2 linked regions of the Homo sapiens genome follow. The protein of the gene in region 1 interacts with the protein of each later gene in a pairwise test. Each region holds a gene or a part of one and is shown in the gene's direction. Other genes may lie near its edges.

Region 1 (5,006 bases):
CCTTCCCCATAACTTAACATGATTAAACTAATATTCAATTTACCACAAAAGTGGAATTAATGAGAGGTAAGTCTAGAAAGAGTTTGGCTTACTCTGGAGGATTTTTGATGCTAAGATGAGTAATTTGTACTTTTGTTAGTCAGATAATAAGGAATCATCGAAGTTTTGTGCCTGTGTGTGGCAAGATATCCGGAACGTAAAATTTACTCTCTGTTTTTAAATATACAGTTTGGTGGCATCCAGTACATTCACATCACTGTGCAACCATCACCACCATCTGTCTTCAGAACTTTTTCATCATCCCCAGCTGAAACTATAGTCATTAAACAATAACTCCTCTGTCCCCTCAGTCCCCAACCCCTGGTAACTACTATTTTACTTTTTGCCTCTGTGATTTTGACTATTCTGGGTACCTCATATAAATAGAAGCATATTTTAAAGAATTATACCATTTTGTGTATGTGGAATAAGGCTTTTGGGTCTGGCTTATTTTACTTAACATAATTGTCTTCAAGGTTTATCCATGTTGTAGTACATGTCAGAATTTCCTTTCTTTTTATGGCTAAATAACATTCCATTGTATGTGTCACATTTTGTTTATCCGTTCATTCATCAATGAGCATTTGATTTGTTTCCACCTTTTGGCTATTGTGAATAGTGTTGCCGTGACCATTGGTGTACAAATACCAATTCAAGTTCATTGAAAGTCTTTTTAAACAAGGGGAACGACAAAATCTGAGCTGTGCTTTGAGTTAAGTAATTTGACAGCAGTTAGTGATCAGTTTGAAGGCCATTTTAATAGTTTGGCAGGCAATAATAAGAGGCTACCTTATTATGGAGACTGAAAACTAGAAATCAGTGGTTGATACTTTGGAGGATTGACAGGTTTGACAACTGAGAGGTGCCTGGGAAGAGGTTGGTTCCTGTTGCTGAGGAGTACCAGCAAGTTTTGAAGGGTGGCAATGGGAAGGATATGATGTGACAAACTGGACTGCTAATGGGCTGTTCGAGTGAAGATGTCTGTCATACCTTTACAGATGCAGGTCTGGAGCTCAGGAGGGAGGTCAGAGCTGAACTTGACATCATCAATATAGAACTAATCATTGAAGCCATAGTATGGCATCATTGGGAGGAAATGAGGAGGAAAATATAGAAATACAAAGATGTCAAGGAAGTAGCCTTGGGGAATGCCCACCTCTGGGAAGTGGGAAAACTCTAGGAGTAGCCAGAGCTCAAAGAATCTGTGAATGAGCATAGTGTCCTAGGAGGAAGGAATAGTCAGTTTTGTGAACTACTACAAAGAATAATGAAAAATGAAGACTGAGGAAAACATTTTAGAAATGTAGAGATGTAAAAAATAGAAAATTAAAGATTGCATAATTCTAGTCTTTCACTTCTAACACTATTAGTTTGGTGTATGTCTTTTCAAGTGTTTTGACCTACCTATACAACAGTTTTTGTATACACATGCGCTAATCAGTCAAATAGATCTTCCTTATTCTTTATTTACTGGTGACTTTTTAAAAAACAGGTTGAGCTGAGTTATAAAATGTAGGTTGCAATCCAGGTTGGCTGGGTGCAGAAGCTAGATTGCAAGAGAATAATAAAGGGAAAAGATGACTTCTGGGAAACCTGATAGCTACAATTTGAAAGATTGTCATGTGAAAAAGAAAATAGACTAATTTGTTGCTCCATAGAGAGGCACTGGAAATAGGTGTTAGTGTTAAAAGATTCGGTTTTGGTGTAAAAAAAAAAAACTTATTTGCTGTCAAAAAGCAGAATAGGCTACCTTGCAAAGCATTCAGTTACTTTTCACTAGAGGGGTGCAGATAAGCTGCCTGACCCTGCAAGCCCAGTGTTGTGCAAGGAATTGATTGGCAAGTGGGAATGGATGGCACCTAAGGCTTCTTACACTTGGTTATTCTCTTGGATATATTGATTAATAGCTCAGCCAGAGGACTTAGTGTATTTTTTTTTAATGCTTAAAATGAATAAAGGCTCATTTGCAGCATTATTCACAATACCCAGGATATGGAATCAACCTAAAGTGTCCAGCAATGGATGAATGAATTTTAAAAAAAAAAGTACACACACACACGCACACAGGAATACTATTCAGCCTTCAGAAAGAAGGAAATCCTGTCACTTGCAGCATACATGAATGAACCTGGAGGACATGATGCTAAGTTAAATAAGACAGATACCACATGATCTCAGTTGTGTGGAATCTAAAAAAGCCAAACTCTTAGAAATGGAGTAAAATGGTCATTACTAGGGGCTTTGAGGGAGGGAGATTGGGGAGATGTTGGTCAAAAGAGACAAAATTTCAAATAGATGGGATGGATGTTGTACAACACTGTGATTATAGTTAATAACAACATGCTCTCTTGACAATTGCTATGAAAGTGAATTAAATGTTCTCACCACAAAATAATAAGTATGTGAGGTAACAGATATGTTAATTAGCTTGGTTTATCCATTCCACAGTGTCTACGTGTATCAAAACACAATGTTGTACATCATAAATATATATCTTTTATTTGTAAATTAAATAAAAAACATTTTAAGAAATGAATAAAGACTGAAAATGTTTCATATTCACCACTTATTTCCCCCCACTTTATTTTTTTAAAGAGACAGAGTCTTGCTACGTTGCCCAGGCCGATGTTGAACTCCTGGGCTCAAGCCTGTCTCAGCCTCCCAAAAAGTGTTGGGATTACAGGCATGAGTCACCATGCCCACCTTATTGTTTCTCGGTTTTTCAAAAAGATTTTTTTTTTTTTGAGATGAAGTCTCCCTCTGTCGCCCAGGTTGGAGTGCAGTGGCATGATCTCTGCTCACTGCAAGCTCTGCCTCCCGGGTTCACGCCATTCTCTTGCCTCAGTCTCCCCAGTAGCTGGGACTACAGGTGCCCACCACCACTCCCGGCTAATTTTTTTATTTATTTTTATTTTTAGTAGAGACAGGGTTTCACCGTGTTAGCCATGATGGTCTCGATCTCCTGACCTAGTGATCCACCCGCCTCAGCCTCTGAAAGTGCTGGGATTACAGGCGCGAGCCGCCATGCCCAACCAAAAAGATATTTTTGAGTAATGTGTGCTTTGTCAGAGATAAGACACATGTGAAGACTACTTGCTGGTACAACTTTAAGAATGTTTTTAAAAATTTTAGTACACAGTGTTGCAAAACATAAACTTTTATTACCTAAAACTTCACTAAGATATACCAGTTTGTAATACCAACAATTCCTTCTTCAGCATAACCAGCCTGGAGATGAGATGTTCTAGCCAGGCACATATTCTTGTTCGGCTACTCATTTCTATAAAATGAGAAAACCCTTCCCAGAATTGGTGGTCCGCTGAGGTTTGTACTCAGTAGACGGCAGAACAGCTTGGTCATTTACAAGCAAATTCAGTCTTGAGCTTGCAGACACTATCAGAAACTTGATGGAGGGATAGCGTCTTCAGGAACGGGGTGCTCAGGGACACAGTTTATCCTGTATTCTGTAAGTGCTAAAATGTCTCTTTGGGTCAAGCCAGATCAGTCAAGACCTGGTACCTAGATTACATCTTAGTCTCCCAGTAGAATCAGGTTTCTAGAATTGAGTTTTAGTATAGTGCCAGTGGCTCAGATTCATAGTTGTTAATAAGATGTAGCCCTATTAAATACTTTTTGTCTATAACAAGGATGTAGTTAAGGATTCTGTTCATCGACATCCTCAACAAAAGACATCGCTGTGTAATCTTAGTACCAAAACCTTTCCTGATCACTTATCTGTTTTCATCTCATGGGCACTGTAAACTGTTTTGCAAGAAGCGTTTTCCTTTTTGAATTTGCTGTAAGAAAAGAGCTACATTCATACTCTTCCCTTAGATAAAGATATCTTTGTTAATGATTTTATCAAAAAGTGGATATAGATTGCATCTAATATATAAATGTAAGATTTTAAGTTAAAACTAGCAGTTTTGTATGTATGCAGTTATACAGTACCACATTTATGATTTTGTTTTCAACCTCAAACTACATTATATGTTCTGTTTTGTAGTCTGTTTCACCTGATAGCTTAAACATGTCTGCCAAATACCCATGTCTAAATTACCATAGTTTGTTGCTTTGCCTTGATTTGGGCTAACGTGCCAACAGTTTTGCTCACTGTTGCTTTTTTACTATTTGTGCAGCTGTCAGCACAGTGAAAAGACAAACTATGTCTTTACTAACATTATGAAAATAGTTTTGACTGTGTGGACCCTGAAAAGTTCTCAGGGTCCTCCAGAGGCCCAAAGTTCACAGTTTGAAAACCACTGACTTAGTAGTTTCTGCAGTTCATGCAGAAAAGGACTTTATCTATTTCAATATTATAACAATGCCTTCTCTCCAGTATTTTCATGTTTTTCATTTTATTTTTTACATTTAAAATTACCTGGAATTTTATTTTCACATAAGGCATCAAATTGGCTCAATTTTTTTGAATGACTAACCAGATATTATAATACCATTTTTTATAATCCATTTTTTCTCCAAGTTGAAATGCCATGTTTATCACAATATGCATGACCTAACTTTGCCCCTGTTCTTGTTTTTCTTTTGCTCTACTCATTATATTTTTAGTTTTATGTACTTTATGTATTTGTCACAAATCTTTACTAAAACAAGGTGGGATATAAATGGATCAATAAGTGTAATACTGGAATGATATGGTATGTTACCTGTTTTAAACAAGATACTTATTTGATATGTGTTGGCAAGTTTTAATTTATAACTGTTGTTCCTTACCATCATCATAATAAAACAAATATTTCTAGGTTGGTGATGACAAAACTGTGAAGCAGTGGAAAATGGATGGGCCAGGCTATGGAGACGAGGAAGAGCCATTACATACAATATTAGGAAAGGTACAAAAGTAAATTGACTAATAGCTTGCCTATTAACATTCTTTTATTTAAAATTATTTTATAGTTATAATTTCCTAAGATGGGGAAGAAGATGCAGATAAGAAACGAAAGACT
Region 2 (5,006 bases), on another chromosome or scaffold:
GATGTTAGCAGAGGGTGAAGAAAACAGACTAAGGTTGGGAGACCTGGAGGAGACCCCAAGAGACCAGCCTGGCTCTCCTTAGATGTGGGAAAGCTCAACTCAGTACCAGGACGTTAAACAAGAGGCCATCTAAAGTCCAGCTGGGGGAATCAGTCTTCAACTGGAACAAGTAAAGACATTCTAAGGATAAACCTTAGAGGAAAAAGTTGAACTAGATGACTAAGGAGATTCATTCATTAGGTAAATATTTTTTGATAAGCTGTGTGCCAGGTACTAGAGGTACATGGAAGAATAAACCCAGGGCTTACCTTTGCTGTCTGCTGGGGAAGACATGAATAACTAAACTGCAGTGTGAGTGCTTTCATAAAGTTACTAAAGGAGTGTTTGGGGATCACAAAGGATGGAGCAACCAACTTGTTCCCAGAAGCATAGGTGTCAGGAGAGGCTGTGAAGAGCTGAGGTTCAAATTGGAAAGATAATCAATCAGCAGAGTTCAGGCAGAGAAGGGTGTGAGACATTTCAGGCAGGCAGGCAGGCAGGCAGCAGGGAGCAGCAGGGATTCTGAGAGAGCACATGAGCAAGGGGGCTTGGGAATCAGATTCTGGCTTAGCTACTCCCTGGTAATGGAGCCATCAGCCTCTTGTCTGCTATTGCAGGGCACATAGAGTAACACCCAGCTTTGAGAGTTGGGAGAATTCAGGATAGGTTTCTGGACATGATGATTGATGATTTGTGGCTAGAAGTAATTTTCATGAGTTTGATCGTTATTTGATATGGACAGAGACCTTAGAGAGAAATGGATTTCGACTGATTTGCTCAGCTTGTTGCTGGGGAGGGAATGGGAGAGCCTGAGAGTTCTCTCTAGCCCTAGGCAGAGGGTACTCCGGCATTCCTCCCTAAACTGGATGCTTTCTTATCTGAGTCAGTTATCTCACCAAACCTCCCTTTCTGGGAACTGAGGTGGTTCTCATCAAGGAGGAGAAAGAAACTGGCTGCTGTCCTGTCCCGGTTTTCAGTATTATAGTTTCATTGAATTAAATAAGTTTTGATTTACATACTTTTTTTTCAATTTTTGTTTTTTTATTTTATAAAAATTTTTTGGAGAGACAGGGTCTCACTATCCATGTTACCTTTCACTCGTGTCACTCGTGTCCGTGTGAAGAGACCACCAAACAGGGTTTGTGTGAGCAACAAGGTTGTTTATTTCACCTGGCTGCAGGCGGGCTGAGTCCAAAAAGAGAGTCATGGAAGGGAGATAGGAGTGGGGCCGTTTTATAGGATTTGGGTAGGTAAAGGAAAGTTATAGTCAAAGGGGATTGTTCTCTGGCGGGCAGGTGGCAGGGGTCACAAGGTGATCAGCAGGGGAGCTTTTGAGCCAGGATGAGCAAGGAGAAGGAATTTCACAAGGGAATGTCATCAGTTAAGGCAGGAACAGGCCATTTTCACTTCTTTTGTGAAGGAATGTCATCAGTTAAGGCCATCTGGATGTGTACGTGCCGGTCACAGGGGATATGGTGGCTTAGCTTGGGCTCAGAGACCTGACATTACCCAAGCTGCTCTTGAACTCCTGAGCTCAAGCAATCGCCTCTGCTTCCCAAAGCACTTGGACTGCAGTTGTGAGCCACCGCTCACAGCACCCGTGATTTACATACTTTTTGGAATTTTTTTTGTTTTGAGACAGAGTCTCTCTCTGTTGCCCAGGTTGGAGTGCAGTGGCATGGTCTCAGCTCACTGCAACCTCTGCCTCCCAGGTTCAAGTGATTCTCATGCCTCAGCCTCCCAAGTAGCTGGGACTACAGGTACATGCCACCATGCCTGGCTAATTTTTGTATTTTTAGTGAAGATGGGGTTTCACCATGTGGGCCAGGCTGGTCTTGATCCACCCTCCTTGGCCTCCCAAAGTGCTGGGATTACAGGCATGAGTCACCACACCTGGCCTACTTTTTTTTTTTTTTTTTTTTGAGACAGAACCTTTCTGTCACCCAGGCTGGGGTGCAGTGGTGTGATCTCAGCTCACTGAAACCTCCACCTCCTGGTTTCAAGCAATTCTCCCACCTCAGCCTCCCAGGTATTTGGAACTACAGGTGTGCGCCACCATGCCCAGCTAATTTTTCTCTATTTTTAGTTGAGACGGGGTTTCACCATGTTGGCCAGGCTGGTCTCAAACTCCTGACCTCAGGTGATCCACCCACCTCAGCCTCCCAAAGTGCTGGGATTATAGGCGTGAGCCACCACACCCAGCCAATTTACGTACTTTTAAAGCAAATATTTAACAAATGGATAGGATAGAGTAAAATAAATGACACCACAAATGTATATGTTTGGTTCATAAAGATAAGTCATTTGTAAGATAATGGTTGAAAGTGTAGGCTCTAGAGTCAAACTACTAGAGTCTATAACGCATCTCTGCCATTTCCTTGTGATGTTAACATGGGCAAGTTTTATTTTATTTTATTTTTATTTTTAGAGACAGGGTCTTACTCTGTCACCCGGGCTGGAGTACAGTGGCGCAAACGTAGCTCACTGAAGCCTCGAACTCCTGGGCTCAAGTGATCTTCCTGCTATAGCCTCCCAAGTAGCTGGGATTACAGGCCCACCACCATGCCCAGCTAATTTTTTTTTTTTTCATTTTTTTGTAGAGTCTCACTATACTGCCCAAAGTGCCAGGGTTGCAGGTATGAGCCACCATGCCCAGCCATGGGCAAGTTTTTTTTAACCCCTCTGTGCCTCATCTATAAAATGGAGATTACAAATCTATTTCATAGGACTGCTGCAAGGCTTAAGTGAATTGATACATATACGGTGCTTAGAACAATAACAGGTACAGAGGTGTTCAAAGTTAGCAGCTCAGGCACTAGCCTTGTCATTTTCCTTCTCCAAGGTTTTACAGCAAGTTAAAATGAAGCTGGAGTTCAGCCAATCTTTGGAATCCTAAGAAACACAAGAAATTTAATAACAGCACTCGTAACGTAGTTACATCTTGCTTTACAGTTTACAAAGTGCTACCATGCCTTTTTTTTCTCATTTTGTTCTCATAAGAGCCTGGGGTAGATGAAGTTCCTGGTGGCGCCATTTTATAGGTTAGGAAACTTGACTCTTAGGAAGTGATTGAGCCAAGAAAGGTTTGATGGCGATACAGTCTCTGTCTGCCATGTCCCCACTTCCTGCAAGGGTTATAATGAATCATGACTAATAGGAGGTGCAGACACACCTTCTGCAAAGGCTTGTAGTTAAATAAGGCAGCACGTGGAATGGACAGACTGGAGACAGTCCTTACCTCATGTGGAACCTAGGACAGGTAAGGCCCTGTCCTCCACCCCAGAGCTCACTTTGTCTGAGAGCAGCTGACCAGCAGTGGAAGACATTTGCTCAGCGATATATTAGTTATGGCTGCAAAAGCCCAAGAATTCATCCCCAAGGCAATTAAGATAAACCACAAATAGAGGATGGGTGCCTTGGCTCACACCTATAATCCCAACACTTTCGGGAGGCTGAAGTGAGAGGATCACCTGAGGTCAGAAGTTCAAGACCAGCCTGGCCAACATGGTGAAACCCTCCCTCTACTAAAAATACAAAAATTCGCTGGGCATGGTGGCAGGCAGCCTCAGGAGGCTGAGACAGAAGAATCGCTTGAACCCCAGAGGTGGAGGTTGCAGTGAGCCAAGATCACACCATTGCACTCCAGCCTGGGTGGCAGAGCGAGACTCCATCTCAAAAAAAAAAAAAATCAAATAGTAATTTGCCAAAAGTTTTTAGCAATGAACTTAAGTTCATTAAAACACATTGGTATTTATACCCTGAGCAAACAGGAGTCCTCCTGTGTTCTGGGCACTGGGTGGGGGCACAGGGGCATCACCAGATGCAAACTTGATCTTGACTAGGAGGGCCCCTCCTAGTCAAGTAGATTCACACCTTAAGTCAGTAAATCCTAGCCACTCCTTTAGTCTTCATCACTGGCATTTGATGGTTTTCCTCTTCTTCATGGCCCCAAATTTCTGGTTCTCTTTTTATTATATTATCTATGTCCTTTACTGTAACTCACCTCACAACCTTTTCGGAAAAAAGGACTCAATACAGGAAAGGAAAAACAGCCGCGATGTTGTGTTAACCTCTGGTTTTTCCTCTCTCTCCTTCCCCGCCCCCACCCCAGTCTTGACTCGTCTGCTGAACAAATCCTCTGACCTCAGGCCGGCTGTGAACGTAGTTCCTGAGAGATAGCAAACATGCCCAACAGTGAGCCCGCATCTCTGCTGGAGCTGTTCAACAGCATCGCCACACAAGGGGAGCTCGTAAGGTCCCTCAAAGCGGGAAATGCGTCAAAGGTACATGATTTTGCTGGGTTCTCCACGAAGGCAGCTGAGCCTCCCAAGTCTGTAGGGTTGTGTTCCTCTAGAATAGATGGTTTCCTCAATGACTGAGGTGTTTTGGTTATAATTTTTTATTTTTTGAGAGGGAATTTCACTCTTGTTTCCCAGGCTGGAGTGCAATGGTGCAATCTAAGCTTGCTGCAACCTCTGCCTCCCGGGTTCAAGTGACTCTCCTGCCTCAGCCTCCCAAGTAGCTGGGATTACAGGCATGCACCACCACACCCAGCTAATTTTGTATTTTTAGTAGAGATGGGGGTTTCACCACGTTGGTCAGGCTGGTCTCAAACCCCTGACCTCAGGTGATCTGTCCACCTTGGCCTCCCAAAGTGCTGGGATTACCAGCATGAGCCACCACGCCAGCCTTGGTTATAGTTTTAAATGTATTTTTCCTTTATCAACATTGGGATGCCTGTGGTCTAAAGAGTCAGGGGTTCTCAAAGCCTTTGTGAAATACAGTGGCCCTCCAGCCCACCTCTCCCTATTTCCTGCTCAATTCTTTTAGCCGATCTTTTGGTTATGTACTCCCCATATCTGTAAATATTCTGCTTATCATATTGTTCCTTGTTGATTTTCAAGTTGGGGTCTTTCAGGTGGAAATGAAGCATTCGTACCTTCACAACCACTTCCCGTCCAGGCAGT

The links.
Region 2: the proteins of DCAF13 (region 1) and WARS1 interact in a two-hybrid assay, tested with the Homo sapiens proteins (one large-scale study listed by BioGRID and IntAct).

The regions. Positions count from the first base shown.
Region 1 is NC_000008.11:103,421,254-103,426,259, forward strand, and holds part of DCAF13 (DDB1- and CUL4-associated factor 13), read left to right. Parts: intron 1-4,802; coding exon 4,803-4,892; intron 4,893-5,006. UniProt on the Homo sapiens protein: Part of the small subunit (SSU) processome, first precursor of the small eukaryotic ribosomal subunit.
Region 2 is NC_000014.9:100,368,403-100,373,408, reverse strand, and holds part of WARS1 (tryptophan--tRNA ligase, cytoplasmic), read left to right. Parts: intron 1-4,150; 5' UTR 4,151-4,223; coding exon 4,224-4,322; intron 4,323-5,006. UniProt on the Homo sapiens protein: Catalyzes the attachment of tryptophan to tRNA(Trp) in a two-step reaction: tryptophan is first activated by ATP to form Trp-AMP and then transferred to the acceptor end of the tRNA(Trp).